2 separate regions of the Homo sapiens genome follow, and region 1 is linked to region 2. Evidence: fine-mapped QTL for protein levels in blood plasma. Region 2 holds a variant in brackets. A gene starts in the other region. All regions are shown on one strand. Distances are from middle to middle.

Region 1 (8,317 bases), 76 Mb before region 2:
CTGGACTGGTTGAGGCCTCTCTTGATCCCTCACCTGAGAACAAACGCCTCTGTGTGCTCACTTGCTCACCCTCCACACCTCACAGAGCAGTGGCACCAACATCCCGCCTTTCACCTCTGCAGTCCTTGGGAGGTGAAGTGCACACCTCCAGGTGTCTCCGAACCTTTGGAGCCCCAGAAAGTGGACATGCTTGGGGTGTCTGAGTCTGCCCTGGAGAGCTGGACGTGACTGGTGTTTTATTTGCCCTCCCTTGAATCCTCAGATGCTCACCTGCCAGGGTGTAGGTCTGGGCCTTGCCACTGTGTCCCTGTGTGGGGCTGGGGTTGGAGCTGGGGTCCTCCTTGGTGTCCAGAGGGCTGAGAACCACGGCTTCTCTGGGTGTGCTCTCCATCTGCCCACCAAGGCAGGGCCAGAGCTGTGGCGCTGGGGTTGGGTGCCAGCCCCCACCACCCTGGTTAAGCCCAGTTGGCTGGGGGCTGGGCAGCCTGGTGCTGGCAGGGTTGGCTGTGGCAGGATGGCTCTGGCCTGCAGAATGGGTGTGGGCCAGCCTGGCCTCTTGTGTCCTGAGATGCTGGCCTTGAGATGGAGACACAAGATGCTCGGTGACTCAGTTTCCCCTTCTGTAATGTGAGCTAATAATCAGACCAACCACATAGGGACATGGAAAAATGGCCCCAGATGACACATGTGACTGACATGTGGGCAGCCTGCACTTGCTGGAGGCCGACATTTCAGTAATCAGCAATGGGGGCCACGTTTGGACCAACACAGGATGTAGGGAGACAGGGGCTGCCACGTGGGGATACCTAGGGCTGCGGTGTGGGCGGGTGGAGTGCTCTCCAGGAAAGCAGGCTCTGTGACTGGTCTCCCGCCCCCGTGGGAGAGGTATTGGCCACATGGGGAGTGCTTGCGGGGGTGGGTGGTGATACTCCAGGGAAGCAATCAGTGGGGCATGGGCCATTACTTCAGGCAGCCTAGGGTGGGCCTCAGGCTGGAGACCCCCGGAGGCCATCAGGAGGCAGCACGTCCTGGAGGCAGCACGTCCTGCTCCTTGGAGGACCAAGGTCTTTTCTTTCAAGGCCCTGCACTGATTGTGTCAGACCCACCTGCTTCGCCAGGGTCACATTTAAGAAGTCCCTTCACAGCAGCATCCAGCCCGGCGCCATGCCAAAGACTGGAGCCATGGCCAGACAGGCCGACTCACAAAGCCACCGTTCGAGCGACCGGGACGTGTGCAGGGGACGCACCTGCTGTCTTTGGCTCCCCCAGCAGCATAGGGGTTCTCTCTTCTCGCCCCCTCCCCAGCCTCCTCTTCCCCTTCCCCTTCCTCCTCCTCCTTTCCCTCTCCCTCTTCCTCCGGTGGCTCTGACCCCCACATGCCCCTCACCCGGGCTTCCTGGTGAGTCAGGTTTGTGGATACACAGTAGGGGGGCCGTCACTTCAGGTGCCATGTGACGTCAGTGCTGCCTCCTCCCTGCAGTCACTACTGCAAATTCCATGCAGCCGTTGGCAACAGTGTCTTGTCACGGTAAACATGTTGGGCGTGGGCAGGGTGGGGAGAGGCTGGGGGGGCCAGGATGCTGTCTGTGTGGGAAGCTGTACTCCAGGATGCTGTCTGTGTGGGAGGCTGTACTCCAGGATGCTGTCTGTGTGGGAGGCTGTACTCCATGCAGCCTCGTTCTGAGTCCCAGCCGGGGCCTGAGGCTGGGGCAGCCTGACATGGGGCTGGGGATGTGGGCTCCTGGCTCAACTGTGTCCGGCCCGCCGTTGGGTGGGTGGTCATTCCCACCACTGCCATCATGTTCTTGTCACAGAAAGCAGAACCGACAAGCATTTTCCTCGGAGTGGTCAAAGCCCCCACTCTCTCCCTCCACCAGGGTCCCTCGAACCCCATGGGAAAGCCACAGAGTGGCGATGGGGTCCCAGGGCAATACGGCTGCCCACTCTCCCACTCTGCACTTGCTGGAGGCCGACATTTCAGTAACCAGCAATGGGGGCCACATTTGGACCAACACAGGACGTGGGGAGAGAGGGGATGCAGTGCTGTGGAACTGCCTGGCCCCCATCGCCTCCACCACCACAGTAGATGCTGCGAATCTGGCAGTGGGGACCGGCTGAGGCTTGGAGGCAAAGAGGCTGGGGACACTCTCGCTTTGGGGGTGCCAGTGACTCCATAGTCGCCCCGGCCTGATGGAGCCCTCACTGTCCTCTTCCCCAGAACAGCTCCCTTTCCCCGTTAGGAATGGGGTTCAGCTCTCTGCACCCTGCCCCATGCAGGGCTGCCTGTAACCTCAGACAGGGCTCCTACCTGGGACCTTGCCATGGGCCAAGAGGGGTGTTGGGGTCAGACCCCTGAGCCTGGGAACCACCACTGCCCGTCCAGAGGGGACACAGGGTCAGATCTAGGGGACCTACCTCAGGCTTCAGGGCTGGAGGGGCTGTGCTGGGCAGCTTGTGCTCCGCTAGGATTCCTCCAATCCCCCCAGGGCAGGGGGAGCCTGGCCTGGAAAATCTCTGTCCTGAGGCCCGCCTGGGGCATGTCAGGGTCAGGGGACTGCAGTTGGGGCCGTCCTTGGGTTTCCCCAGGGCTCAGTGCCAGTGTGCGGAGGCCCACACCAGGAAGTGAACAATGATCTCCTCTGGCCTCGCCCAGCTGGCTCTGGTTTCCTAATCCCCGGTCCTCCTGGCAGGGGCCACACACTGAGCTTCCTCCACGTGCCCAGGTCCTGGCAGGGAGCGCAGACCCTGGGGCCTGGTGCTGGCGGGCACCGCAGGAGGGCGGGAGGGGCTTCGTCCCAGGCCCTGGGTCTGGGCAGCAGGTCAGCCAGGGAAACAGGCTTGGTGCTTTGGGCCCCGAGTCTCTATAACTGTTGGGGTGAGTCCCTCCCCACTGCCATCATGCTGCCGGCATGTCCCTGGCATGTTCAGGCCAAAGCCAGGAACTCAACTCAGGGCCCCTCTCTATTTTCAGGAGGAGAAAATTGTAGAGAGAGGGGAGGGCCCCCAGACCTCAGTTTACCCACTGGCGACACAGGGGTGCCTGCCTGTGCCCTCCCGGGCCGGGGCAAGCAGTGGTGGGCCCAGTGGTCTCGTAGTCTGGGGTCGGTGTGAGTTCCGGTTCTCCAGGCTTTTTTCCAGACAACTGCTGGGATTGGTGGGCGAGACCAAGGCTCATCAAAGGCACAGCCTTGGGGGCAGGATCCCCACCATGAGTCAGAGGTAGTTCTGGGGAGCCTGGGCAGGCTGTCACCTCCTCAGCTGTCAGGCCCGAGGTCCTCATGTGGTCCCCAGGAGAAGGGGCAGACGGCCACTTCCGGCCACCAGCCAGCTCCCTGTGTGCCTGATTCCGTAACATGTCCCCTGGCTGGGCATGTACTCCCCAAGTTCTAATTACATGTAACTGCAGAGAAGGGCTCAGCCTGGGAAAAGGATGGGCATAGGGGGTGGTTGGGGGCTGGGGCCTCTGACACAGCTCCATGAGCCCGGCCAAGAGTCCCACACAAGTCAGTGGCCCCCCCGGACCCTGAAGGATCCCACATCCTCCCTGCCCTCGGGGAGGCCCCTTTCTGGGGTCAGGCCTGGAAGCTGCCCCAGAGCTTGGGCCCCAGGAATGGGTTGGTCCTCCCAGCGTAACGTGAGCCTGATCAGGCCTGGGGACCTGCTCAGCGGGTGTCTGGGGGCCCATGGCGGGCTAAGGAGCCTGACCAGACTTGCTTCTGGCAGGACACCCCTCCCCCGGCCACCCTGGGCTCGCCCCTCTAGTAGCTGCATGTGTTCCCCGGGTGTGTGTTGGCATTCAGGCTACAGGGCTGCCTCATCCTGAAGAAGGCTGCGTTTACCCAGGGAGCCATAAAGAGATGACCTCCGATAACCTGAATCAATATTTCCCCATTGGGGCTCGGGCCCCCGCAGCTGTCTTCTTGATCATCTGGCAGATGCCACACCCACCCTTGGCCCTCCCCTGCCTTCCTGCCCTCCTACCCTCCTGCCAGGACATATAAGGACCAGACCCCTGCCCCCGGGCGCAACCCACACCGCCCCTGCCAGCCACCATGGGGCTGCCACTAGCCCGCCTGGCGGCTGTGTGCCTGGCCCTGTCTTTGGCAGGGGGCTCGGAGCTCCAGACAGGTGAGAGAGCAGACACAGGGGTCTGGGGCCTGGCAGAGTGTCCTGGGGGCAGGGCGAGGCGGGCGGGCAAGTCGCGTCTGGGAGGAGGAGCTGGTCCCAGAGTGCAGCCTGCGCGGCTCTGCTGAGGCTCCTGGCCCGGGTTGGTCCCTGGAAGCCCCCGGCCCTGCTGACTTTCAAGGAGCTGGAAGGTCGGGGCTCCCCTGCTATTCCTTTGGGGTTGACTGCCCGACGACAGTGTGGGTCTTGGGGCCAGCACCAGGTGGAAACAGCAGGTCAGGCCCCAGTGAACTGGGTCATTGTCCATAGGGGAGGAAGGGGTGGCCAGGATCCCACCAGAAGGCCCCATTCTCAGGTGGCAGAGACCCTTGAAGAGTTGGGGCAGCACAGCCCTTGCTGGGGAGCGGGGTGCCCAGAATGCCCTCTCCTACATCCCGCTTGGCACCCGGCCGCACTCCTCACCAGGCCGGGGGTAGAAGCCCTGAGACCCCTGTGGTGGGGTGACCAAGGCCCAGCAGAGGGCCCGAGGATAGGAAGGAACCTTTCCCGGCCAGGGGCCCTGTGCTGGGCTCGAAGCTGCTTCCAGGTGCTTCTTCAGGGGCCTTCTCTCGAGGGTAGCTTGGGCAGCCTTCCCCCTCCGGGGCCACTCACCCCTCATTCCCCGCTGCTCCCTCAGAGGGCAGAACCCGAAACCACGGCCACAACGTCTGCAGCACCTGGGGCAACTTCCACTACAAGACCTTCGACGGGGACGTCTTCCGCTTCCCCGGCCCCTGCGACTACAACTTCGCCTCCGACTGCCGAGGCTCCTACAAGGAATTTGCTGTGCACCTGAAGCGGGGTCCGGGCCAGGCTGAGGCCCCCGCCGGGGTGGAGTCCATCCTGCTGACCATCAAGGATGACACCATCTACCTCACCCGCCACCTGGCTGTGCTTAACGGGGCCGTGTGAGTGTGGTCGGTGGCACCCCTCCCACATCCTAGCAACGGGGGCTGATGTTTCCCAAAGGGATATTCCTTGTAGCCCTAGAAGACCCCTTCCGCCCCAGCACACAGCTCAGGAGAACAGCCTTGAGGTTTGGGTTCAGGTCACTAATTCATTCAACAAACACTGATGAGCCCCCACCATTCCCCCCATAGGCAAGGGGTTTCAGTTATCCCTTTGCCTGTGTGTCCCTGACAGCCCCTCCCCTCGGAGCCCACCAGGCTCCGGACAGACTTGGCACCCCTGGAGGCTGCATGTCTCTGGTCCTGTGCATGGAGTGGCCGTGTGTGCCCTCCCCAGGCTAGAGTTACAGAAGCCGGTGCAGGGGGCTGTGGGACCCCCTTCCCCATCCCCAGCTATTGCTCCCCTATTGTCTCCAGAACAATGAGGCCCTGTAAGTGCGTTCCCATCCAGCGCCTGCCCCTCTTCTGCCTGGGGATTTAGTTTCCTGCAAGGCGCCCCAGCATGGGCATGGGCAGGCGGGTGGAGGCCCTCAGGCATGGGCATGGGCAGGCGGGTGGGTAGAGGCCCTCAGGCGTGAGTGCGGGCGGGTGGGTGGATAGAAGCCGTCAGGCATGGGTGCAGGCGGGTGGGTAGAGGTCCTCAGGTGTGGGCATGGGCAGGTGGGTGGGTAGAGGCCGTCAGGTGTGGGCGCGGGTGGGTGGGTAGAGGCCCTCAGGCATGGGTGCAGGCGGGTGGGTGGGTAGAGGCCCTCAGGCGTGGGCGCGGGTGGGTGGATAGAGGCCGTCAGGCGTAGGTGCGGGCGGGTGGGTAGAGGTCCTCAGGTGTGGGCGCAGGTGGGTGGGTGGGTAGAGGCCCTCAGGCATGGCACAGGTGGGTGGGTAGAGGCCCTCAGGCATGGGCGCAGGCGGGTGGGTGGGTAGGGGCCCTCAGGCATGGGTGTTGGCAGGTGGGTGGGTAGAGGCTTTCAGGCATGGGCAGGCAGGTAGAGGCCCTTGAGGACCGAGGCACAGAGGCTGGGGTGAGTGCCTCTACCTGGACCAGCAAGGGGCACTGGCAGGAGGTGGGGTAGGGCCCCTGACGTTCTCAGGGGCAGCCTGGGGGGCTCTGGGGGGTTTGGGACCCCATGGGGGGATGTTCCACCAAGCAGGGGGCCTGGAAGGGGGCTGGGCAGCCTGGTCCTCCCTCCTCTCCCAACCTGGTGCCCTCAGGGCCTCTGAGGGGGGACCCTGCCCAGGACCGTGCCCCGAGGAGGGAGTGGAGAGGAGGGGCGTGCAGGCAGGAGGTGGCTCTGCCGGGGAAGCCCGGCCAGCGGAGATGGACAGGTGCTCTTTGGCCACTGCCTATGTCCCTCCACCCCAGAGGCCGGCCAAGTTGGTGATCCCAGGGCAGGAGCTGGGCCTGGCAGAGCCATCTCCACCACCCCAGGTGCCCAGCTTCAGTCCCCTCTGGGCGGCGGGGTCCCGGGAGGACAAGCTGGGGCGGGGGGGCCTGGGTGGTGGACCCAAGAGTGACCCCGATGTGCCTCCGCCAGGGTCAGCACCCCGCACTACAGCCCCGGGCTGCTCATTGAGAAGAGCGATGCCTACACCAAAGTCTACTCCCGCGCCGGCCTCACCCTCATGTGGAACCGGGAGGATGCACTCATGGTGCTCAGGGGTCCCCGGACTCGTGGGGCTGGTGGGGGCTCCGTCAGGCCTCTGGGCAGACCCCAAGGGAGGGCAGGGAGGGCAGTGCTCTGACCCCTCACCGAGAGGGCATGGGTGGGGCAGGGCCTCGGCAGCGCAGGGCGTCGGTGCTGGACTTGGGGGGCAGCAGCAGAAGCCGACCTGGCCCTGACCCCCCCAGGCCTCAGCCTTCCCCCAAACGCACTCGGCTTCTCAGGGACCTGCCCTGCCAGGCCGCTCCCTGGCTGCTGACCCCAGCCTTCCTGCCCCACCTTCCTCTGGCTCAAACAAGCCACGAGTCTTGGGGGTTCCTGGCGGCTGTGGGCCGGGCGGGAGGCCAGCTCACCTGCTCCCTCCCGCAACAGCTGGAGCTGGACACTAAGTTCCGGAACCACACCTGTGGCCTCTGCGGGGACTACAACGGCCTGCAGAGCTATTCAGAATTCCTCTCTGACGGTGAGGCCCGGAGGGCTTGGAGGGGGCAGGGTAGGCTACGGGCCCCCAGGAGCCCTAGCTGAAGGGCCGTGCATCCCCAGGCGTGCTCTTCAGTCCCCTGGAGTTTGGGAACATGCAGAAGATCAACCAGCCCGATGTGGTGTGTGAGGATCCCGAGGAGGAGGTGGCCCCCGCATCCTGCTCCGAGCACGTGAGTCCCCTCGGTCCGGGGTGGGGGTCCTGGCGGAGCTGGCCTCTGAATAGCATGCTCACCCTGCGTCTGTCCCCAGCGCGCCGAGTGTGAGAGGCTGCTGACCGCCGAGGCCTTCGCGGACTGTCAGGACCTGGTGCCGCTGGAGCCGTATCTGCGCGCCTGCCAGCAGGACCGCTGCCGGTGCCCGGGCGGTGACACCTGCGTCTGCAGCACCGTGGCCGAGTTCTCCCGCCAGTGCTCCCACGCCGGCGGCCGGCCCGGGAACTGGAGGACCGCCACGCTCTGCCGTAAGCCCCGGCGCCTTGTGGGCAGGGGACCCCAGGGAGACCCCACGCTGGTGCTTTCCCCAAGCCCGGGTGGGAGCTGTGTCTGTGCCGGGCACCTTGAGCTGGGGGGACACTCACCGCACCGGGCACCTTGAGCTGGGGGAACACTAACCGTGCCGGGCACCGGGAGCTGGGGGGACACTCACCGTGCCGGGCACCTTGAGCTGGGGGGACACTCACCGTGCCGGGCACCGGGAGCTGGGGGGACACTCACCACGGGCACCGAGAGCTGGGGGGACACTCACCGTGCCGGGCACCGGGAGCTGGGGGGACACTCACCGTGACGGGCACCGGGAGCTGGGGGGACACTCACCGTGACGGGCACCGGGAGCTGGGGGGACACTCACCGTGCCGGGCACCGGGAGCTGGGGGGACACTCACCACGGGCACCGGGAGCTGGGGGGACACTCACCGTGCCGGGCACCTTGAGCTGGGGGGACACTCACCGTGCCGGGCACCGGGAGCTGGGGGGACACTCACCGTGCCGGGCACCGGGAGCTGGGGGGACACTCACCGCGCCGGGCACCGGGAGCTGGGGGGACACTCACCGTGCCGGGCACCGGGAGCTGGGGGGACACTCACCACGGGCACCGAGAGCTGGGGGG
Region 2 (8,317 bases):
AGGGGAGAGGTCGGCCGAGAGCAAGATGGTGTGTAGAGACACCAAGCAGGACGCTACTTCATGTGAGGCGGGAATGTTAGTTTGGATCAACCTGTTGATAGAGGGAATGAAAGCAGGTAGGTTGATGAAAAATGCAGAAGAGAGAATCAACGGGGCTTGGGTGGGGAAACGAGGGGAAGGAGGGAGTCAAGCAAGGTTTTGGGCTTGAACAACCCAGGGGATGGCAGCACTCCGGGACAGCTTGGGGGAGGAAGATGAGAGTTCAAGTAGCATCCAAGGTGGCTGTGGACAGCCATATGGAGCTGTTAAGTCAGGCGGCTGGATGGACATGTGGCTCTGGAGCTCGGAGGTCCTAACAGTGAAGGAGACCATCTTGGACAAAGGTGAAATGAGTGTCTAAGTCAGAGCCCTAGAGGCCTTCCACTATTAAAGGTTATTATTAGAGAGGTCAGGTGCGGTGGCTCACACCTGTAATCCCAGCACTTTGGGAAGCCAAGGCGGGAGGATCACTTGAGCCCAAGAGTTTGAGCTCAAGCCTGGACAATATGGCAAGACACTGTCTCTACAAAAAATAGAAAAAATTAGCCAAGCACTGTGGCACATGCCTGTGGTCCCAGCTATTTGGGAGGCTGAGGTGGGAGGATCACCTGAGCCTGGGAAGTGCGGACTGCAGTGAGCCACGATCACACCACTGCATTCCAGCCTAGGTGACAGAGTCTGACCCTGTCTCAAAAAAAAAGAAGAAGGAGAAAGGAAGAAAGAAGAAGAAGAAGAAGAAGAGGAGGGGGGAAGGGGAGGGGGAAGAGGGAGGAGGAGGGGGAGGAGGGGGATATGGGAGGAGGGGGAGGAGAGGGATAGGATGGGAGGGGAATGAGTGGGAGGGGATGAGGGGGAGGGGATGAGGGGGAGGAGGAGGGGGAGGGAGAGAAGGGAGGATAGAGGAGGGAGGAGGGGGAGGAGGAGGGGAGGGGGAGGGGGAAGAGGAGGAGGAGGTTATTAGAGAGGGGGAACTGAGCAAAGGGAACTGAGAAACATGGTCAAAAAGAAAGGAGGAAAGGCAGGAGAGCGTAGAGTCTGTTTTAAGGAGGGAGAAGGAACGGGGCACAGTGGCTCATGCCTGTAATCCCAGCACTTTTCGGGGCTGAGGTGGGAGGATCACTTGAACCCAGGAGTTCAAGACCAGACTGGGCAATATAGTGGGAACCCGTCTCTACAGAAAAAAAAAAAAAAAAAAATTTAATGACCCAGGTGTGGTGGCACGCTCCTGTAGAGCGCCTCAACTACTCCAAAAGCTGAAGTGGGAGGACTGCTTGAGCCTAGGTGGTCAAGACTGCAGTGAGTCATGATGGTGTCACTGCACTCCAGCCTGGGTGACACAGCAAGACCCTGTCTCAAATAAATAAATAGCCAACGGTCTGAGATGCAGAACCTGATGTGACTGAATTTTTAGCAGGGCACAGTTAAATACGGGAAAGGTTGTTCTGACCTGGGATTCGTCCTGGGGGTCTTCATAAAAGCCAGGCCTGAGGTGCACCTGGGCAGGCTACATGCAGGAGAGGGCCTGAAGGTGAATGTTTGGGAACAGCAAATAATACCAGCAGGTAGAATGAGGAGGCAGAGCTAGAGGATGCCGTGGAGATCATCTCACCCATAAGGTCATATCACCCGTGTCACCCAGTCACTGGCCACTTCATACTCATTTCATGCTCACAACAGCCCTGCAGTAGGAATTCACTAACCCTTCGTCACAGATGAGAACACTCAGACCCAGCCATCGGAACTGACTGTTCAGACGGTGCAGATGGGGAAGTGGGGATGGCAGAATTCGGCTCTGGGTCTGAGTTCAGTGCTATCACCTCATGCTTCCTCGACTCGGGAGGCAACGAGGGGAAGTGATTAGAGATGATCCGAGCTGGACAGAGGCGGAGAGGAGGGAATAAATGAGAGGGATGTAGGGCGCAGAATCAACAGGATGCGGAGAGCAGGTAGCAGCTGAGAAGGACAAGGAAGAAGGCTGGGGCTTCTGGCTGGAGTAGTCAGGTGAACGGAGGTGGGAACAGCAGGGTATGGGTTCAGGGGAAGATGGAGACTCAGACGATGAGTCCACTGGGCCTATGTGACGGGTTGTGGGGCGGTGTTGTCAGGAGGCAAAGAGAGACTCAAATCTGAAGGTCAGAGGAACGGTCCGGAGTGTGGGAGACCAGAGACCGTCAGTGTAATCTTGGATTTTGATTCCTTTTTACCACTTAACAGCAGAGTTGAGAAGGGGCTGGAGCTGGGTTCTGGGAGAGAAGTGACGGGGTACGGGTGGTGTCCTGCCGGTGTCAAAGACGACTTCCGGCTCACCTCTGACTCGGTTTCCCCCACAGATGGCTTTTCCCTGCCGCAGGTCCCTGACTGCCAAGACTCTGGCCTGCCTCCTGGTGGGCGTGAGTTTCTTAGCACTGCAGCAGTGGTTCCTCCAGGCGCCAAGGTCCCCGCGGGAGGAGAGGTCCCCGCAGGAGGAGACGCCAGAGGGTCCCACCGACGCTCCCGCGGCTGACGAGCCGCCCTCGGAGCTCGTCCCCGGGCCCCCGTGCGTGGCGAACGCCTCGGCGAACGCCACGGCCGACTTCGAGCAGCTGCCCGCGCGCATCCAGGACTTCCTGCGGTACCGCCACTGCCGCCACTTCCCGCTGCTTTGGGACGCACCGGCCAAGTGCGCCGGCGGCCGAGGCGTGTTCCTGCTCCTGGCGGTGAAGTCGGCGCCTGAGCACTACGAGCGACGCGAGCTCATCCGGCGCACGTGGGGGCAAGAGCGCAGCTACGGCGGGCGGCCAGTGCGCCGCCTCTTTCTATTGGGCACCCCGGGCCCCGAGGACGAGGCGCGCGCGGAGCGGCTGGCGGAGCTGGTGGCGCTGGAGGCGCGCGAGCACGGCGACGTGCTGCAGTGGGCCTTCGCGGACACCTTCCTCAACCTCACGCTCAAGCACCTGCACTTGCTCGACTGGCTGGCTGCACGCTGCCCGCACGCGCGCTTTCTGCTCAGCGGCGACGACGACGTGTTCGTGCACACCGCCAACGTAGTCCGCTTCCTGCAGGCGCAGCCACCCGGCCGCCACCTGTTCTCCGGCCAGCTCATGGAGGGCTCCGTGCCCATCCGCGACAGCTGGAGCAAGTACTTCGTGCCGCCGCAGCTCTTCCCCGGGTCCGCTTACCCGGTGTACTGCAGCGGCGGCGGCTTCCTCCTGTCCGGCCCCACGGCCCGGGCCCTGCGCGCGGCCGCCCGCCACACCCCGCTCTTCCCCATCGACGACGCCTACATGGGCATGTGTCTGGAGCGCGCCGGCCTGGCGCCCAGCGGCCACGAGGGCATCCG[A/G]CCCTTCGGCGTGCAGCTGCCTGGCGCACAGCAGTCCTCCTTCGACCCCTGCATGTACCGCGAGTTGCTGCTAGTGCACCGCTTCGCGCCCTACGAGATGCTGCTCATGTGGAAGGCGCTGCACAGCCCCGCGCTCAGCTGTGACCGGGGACACCGGGTCTCCTGAGGCCAGTTGGGCGGCTTCAGCCCCGGGCCTCCAACCATGTCCATGCTGAGAAGGCAGCTTTCCCGCTCTGGGTACCTTACGTCCTGCCCAGCTCTGTGCACCTGAACCCCAGCTGCGCACTGAAATCAGCTGGGGTGGGGGGTGTGGAAAATGCCTACATCCTGGCTCCATCTCCCGAAGTTTCGATTTGATTAGTCTGGGGTGGACCCAGACATGTTAAGTATTTTTTAAGTTCCTCCAGTGATGCGAATGTGCAGCTAGGCCTGAGGACCACTCGGCTAGACTATCTCTTCATCCTCGCAAAGCCAGCTCCACCGCCCTCTCTGCAAGAATTCCGGGCCCCTCGCTCCCACACTCGGGTCCTCTTGAGCAGTGGAGCAAGGGAGACCTGGGAGCGTGGGAGCCAGGATCAGCGCCCCCTGCCATGTGCCTACAAATGTCAGTTGTGATTTCCACTGTTTACAAGTGAGTGGAGCTGGAGCTGGGCTGACAGTATCAGGTGGATCCCGCTTCCCCCTCCCCCAAGAAGTCAGCCAACACGCAGCTGAGGCGCATGTGGTGGCCTTCTTCCCACCACTACCCCAGTACACCGTGAGGTAGAAATCTTCACCGTGCAAAGTGGAAACCAGAGGCCCGGTCAGACAGTGACTAATCCAGGGCCGTGGCATTCCCAGACAGCACACCACTGTGGTCCCCTCCACACTCACCCCAACCAAAGCTAATGGCCTAGTTGGGTCCTGCCCGCCAATAATCACCCCCACGGGTCAGAGACAGGCTCCTTGCCGGGGTCTGGGCCTCAGGCTCAGTGGGCCTTGGACAACCCAGCAGGGAGTTCCGGGGAGTCCGAAGTGGAGAAAGGCTGGTGGGAACATGGAGGCCAGTGTTGGGGAGCCTGTGGAGGCAGGTGTGTAGAATTGTGTTCGGGAGGTGGGGGATCTGAGACCGAAGTGGACAGTGGTTAAGATTGTGGGGCCGGGCGAGGTGGCTCACGCCTGTAATCCCAGCACTTTGGGAGGCTGAGGAGGTCGGATCATGAGGTCAAGAGTTCGAGACCAGCCTGGCCAATATGGTGAAACCCCGTCTCTATTGGGAGTACAAAAATTAGCCGGCCATAGTGGCTCGTGCCTGTAATCTCAGCTATTTGGGAGGCTGAGGCAGGAGAATCACTTGAACCTGGGAGGCGGAGGTTGCAGTGAGCCGAGATCGTGCCACTGCACTCCAGCCTGGGCGACAGAGCAAGACTGCATCTCAAAAAAAAAAAAAAAAAGGAGAGTTTGCAAGGGTGGGTGGGAACTTGGTGCCTGGGGCTCTGAGAACCAGGCTGTGGTCCTGACCTCCAGCAGCTGCCAGTCATCTTGGCAACATAGAAAATCAAGGAAACGGCCTAAAGGCAGGCAGAAGTGTGTGTCAGCAAGGTCCCAACTATGTAAGATGGACACGAGGGACTCACCTTCAGGGAGGAAAGAGCCGGGGCAGAACGTCAGGAGACTGGCCAAAGGTCCTTCCCTGCCTTCAGGACGAAGACTAGACTCCTCAGTCCTGCATTTCAGGCTCCTGCCACCCGCCTGCTGCTCACTGATCCCTCCCTCCCACTGTCAGCCTCCATCCAGGTGGCAGTGCCTGCGCTTTGTCAGGCTCTCTCTTGTCTCTGCATTTTGCACAAGCTCTGACCTAGTTACCGAAATGTCCTCCAACCACCTCCATCCTGCATGTCTCTTGCACCAGTTAGGACGCCTGTCGGGGAAGCTGCCAGCTGCCCACCTGAGTCGGCTGTTCCCTTCCTCCTGGGCACTCACCTAGACTCCATTTCCCAGCACTCCGTCCCCTGAAGTTAGATGTGGCCCTGTGACTAGGCCCTCATGGATGGACGGGAGTGGATGAGGATCACTGTGGCACCTGGGCCTGCTTATGCTCTCTTCCTCCTTCCCATTCGCTGGAACATGGATGGGCCTGGGACCCAGCTCTGACTTTGCAAGTGAGGACAATGCTTCAGGCCCAAGTGGAAGTTTCTCAACTACTGACATTTGGGGCAGGACGGTTCTTTGTTGTGGGGGGCAGTCCCGTGCATTGTAAAACATTCAGCAGCATCCATGTCCTCCACTCACTAGATACCAGTATCACAGCCCAAGTCATGACACCCAAAGTATCTCCAGACGTTGCCAAACATACCCTGGTGGGAAAATTCACCCTAGCAGAGAACCGCTGGCCTAGAGGAAGGCAGAGAAACGAGGATTCCTGAGTTCCTGCACGGAGCAGAGCAGCCCGGGGACCAACCTGGAATACTCAGTTCAGACTACTGAGGAAGACAAAATAAACTTTTATGCTTTTAAAAAAAATTATGGACAGAACAATATAGACAAAAACTTTTATGATTTTTCAGCTTCTGGGGTTTGTCTACTGTTACAGCAGCCTTGCCCTGCTAGTGTTTTAGTCTGTTCAGGCTGCTGTAACAAAAATACCATAAACTGGGTGTCTTACAAACATTTCTGAAAGTTCTGGAGGCTGGGAAGTCTAAGGTCAAGGTCCCAGCAGGTTTGGTGTCTGGCGAGGGCCCATTCCTCACTGCCTTCTTGCTGTGTCACTGCATGGTGGGAGGGGCAAGCAAGCTCCCACGGCCTCTTTTACAGCGGCCCAGATTCCATTGGTGAGGGTTCTGCCATCATCACATCATCACCACGTCACCTTCAGGGCTAGGATTTCAACGTAAGAATTCCGGGGGGCCGGGTGTGGTGACTCACGCCTGTAATCCCAGCACTTTGGGAGGCTGAGGCGGGCAGATCACGAGGTCAGGAGATAGAGACCATCCTGGCTAACACAGTGAAACCCCGTCTCTACTAAAAATACAAAAAAATTAACCGGGCATGGTGGCAGGCACCTGTAGTCCCAGCTACTCGGGAGGCTGAGGCAGGAGAATGGCGTGAACCTGGGAGGCGGAGCTTCCAGTGAGCCAAGATCACGCCACTGCACTCCAGCCTGGGCGACAGAGCAAGACTCTGTCTCAAAAAAAAAAAAAAAAAAAAGAATTCCGGGGAAACATAAACATTCCAACCATAGCACTTAAGTCACCTGCTGTGTCCCCTTTCATCCCTTGTTTTTCACCAAGTAGACTGGCTGCTCCCAGAGGGAGAGGCCATGTCTGATTTACATCAGGGCTGTCACAGATTTACACAGAGGGAATCCGTGGCAAGTCCCATCACTCCCACTCCTGGAACTTGAGTAGGTCATCTCACCTCTCTGAGCCGCTCTTTCTGATAAGATTTGGCTCTGTTTCCCCACCCAAATCTCATCTTGAATTGTAATTCCCACATGTCAGGGGAGGGACACGTAGGACTGGACAGGCGGGAGGTGATTGGATCACGGGGTCGGATTCCCTCACGTTCTTGTCGTGATAGTGAGTTCTCGCGAGAGGTGATGGTTTTAAAGCGCGGCACTTCCTCATTCTCGCACACACGCCCTCCTGCTGCCCATGAAGAAGGTGTCTGCTTTCCCTTCGCCTTCCGCCATGATTGTAAGTTTCCTGAGGCCTCCTAGCCATGCTTCCTGTTAAATCTGCAGAACTGTGAGTCAATTAAACCTCTTTCTTTTATAATTACACAGTCTCAGGTAGTATTCTTTATAGGAGTGTGAAAATGGACTAATACACTTTCCACAGTGATGTTCCATGCCAGGGCCATGTAAATCCTCTGTAAACCACATAGGAGGGTACTGTCATTCTGCAGGCTTACTGGCAGCTCTGAGAGGTTGAAGGAAGCAGGAGGAGGTGGCACTTCTGTGACCTTTCTGCAGCCCTTGCCGTGGGCCTTCAGTAGCCACAGCCACTTGTCACTTGCTGATCTATTTTCTGAGCAGGCCATAACAAATACTCCTACATGCTTTTGGGGTGAATGGATGAGTGGATGAGTGCCATCTGTCCCAGTGATGTGGACTGTATCTGTTAGGACAGCAGTCCCCAACCTTTTTGGCACCAAGGACTGGTTTTGTGGAAGACAATATTTCCACAGACCAACGTGGGGGATGGTTTGGGGAAGATTCAAGTGCATTACATTTATTGTGCACTTTATTTCTATTATTATTACATGGTAATATATAATGAAATAATTATACAACTCACCATAATGTAAAATCAGTGGAAACCCTGAGCTTGTTTTCCTGCAACTAGACAGTCCCATCGGGGGTGATAGGAGACAGTGATAGATTATCAGGCAGTAGATTCTCATAAGGAGCAGGCGACCTAGATCCCTCACATGCGCAGTTCACAATAGGGTTCATGCTACTATGAGAATCTAATGCTGTCGTTGATCTGACAGGAGGCGGAGCTGAGGTGGTAATGCACGCGATAGGGAGCAACTATAAATTACAAATGAAGCTTTGCTCACCTGCCGCTGTGCAGCCCGGTTCCTAACAGGCCACAACCAATACCGGTCATTGGCCCAGGGATTGGGGACCCCTGTGTTAGGATACTGTACTAGTTCCCTATTGCTGCTGTAACAAATTCCCACAAGCTTGGCTTAAAAGCACACTCATCTGTTACCCTACAGCTCTACCCACCAACTGCACTCCTTACTGGAGGTGCTAGGGAAGGATCCATTTCTTTGCCTTTTCCAGCTTGCAGAGACCTCCTTCCTCCATCTCCAAAACCGACCATGTGGCGGCTCTTGGTGCGTTGCTTCCACAGCCACATCACTCTCTGACTTTCCTGCCTTCTCCTTCCACTTCCAAGGACCCTGTAACTACACTGGGCCTACCTAGATAACCTGGGATTCTTTTCCTATCTTAAAGTCAGCTGATGAGCA

Alleles and levels. Positions count from the first base shown, and alleles are read on the strand shown. Strength reflects both the effect of a copy and how common the allele is.
In carriers of allele A in region 2, the plasma level of the protein whose gene starts at base 4,025 in region 1 tends to be lower than with G alone (strong association).

The links. PIP is the posterior inclusion probability: the model's chance that the variant is causal. The UK Biobank Pharma Proteomics Project read protein levels with antibody pairs (Olink). The fine-mapping took linkage between variants from a reference panel, not from the people measured, so its PIPs are less certain.
Region 1: MUC2 starts here. The variant in region 2 is fine-mapped to the plasma level of the MUC2 protein (UK Biobank, PIP above 0.99).

Annotation. Positions count from the first base shown.
Region 1 is chr11:1,070,850-1,079,166 of GRCh38, forward strand. MUC2 (mucin 2, oligomeric mucus/gel-forming) reads left to right here and starts at 4,025. Exons shown (of 58, transcript NM_002457.5): 1 at 4,025-4,128; 2 at 4,802-5,072; 3 at 6,605-6,719; 4 at 7,103-7,193; 5 at 7,274-7,383; 6 at 7,463-7,673. The coding sequence starts at 4,053. LOC107987157 (a long non-coding RNA gene) reads right to left here and starts at 2,585. Exons shown (of 5, transcript XR_007062544.1): 1 at 2,416-2,585; 2 at 271-576. RefSeq lists enhancers at 6,972-7,472, 7,498-8,039.
Region 2 is chr11:77,037,183-77,045,499 of GRCh38, forward strand. It overlaps B3GNT6 (UDP-GlcNAc:betaGal beta-1,3-N-acetylglucosaminyltransferase 6), which reads left to right. Exons shown (of 2, transcript NM_138706.5): 2 at 2,370-4,791. The coding sequence starts at 2,370. The coding sequence ends at 3,524. Among named protein-coding and RNA genes, the nearest start is that of ACER3-AS1, 5.7 kb to the left of the region's middle. The variant A/G (reference allele first, on the strand shown) is at 3,359.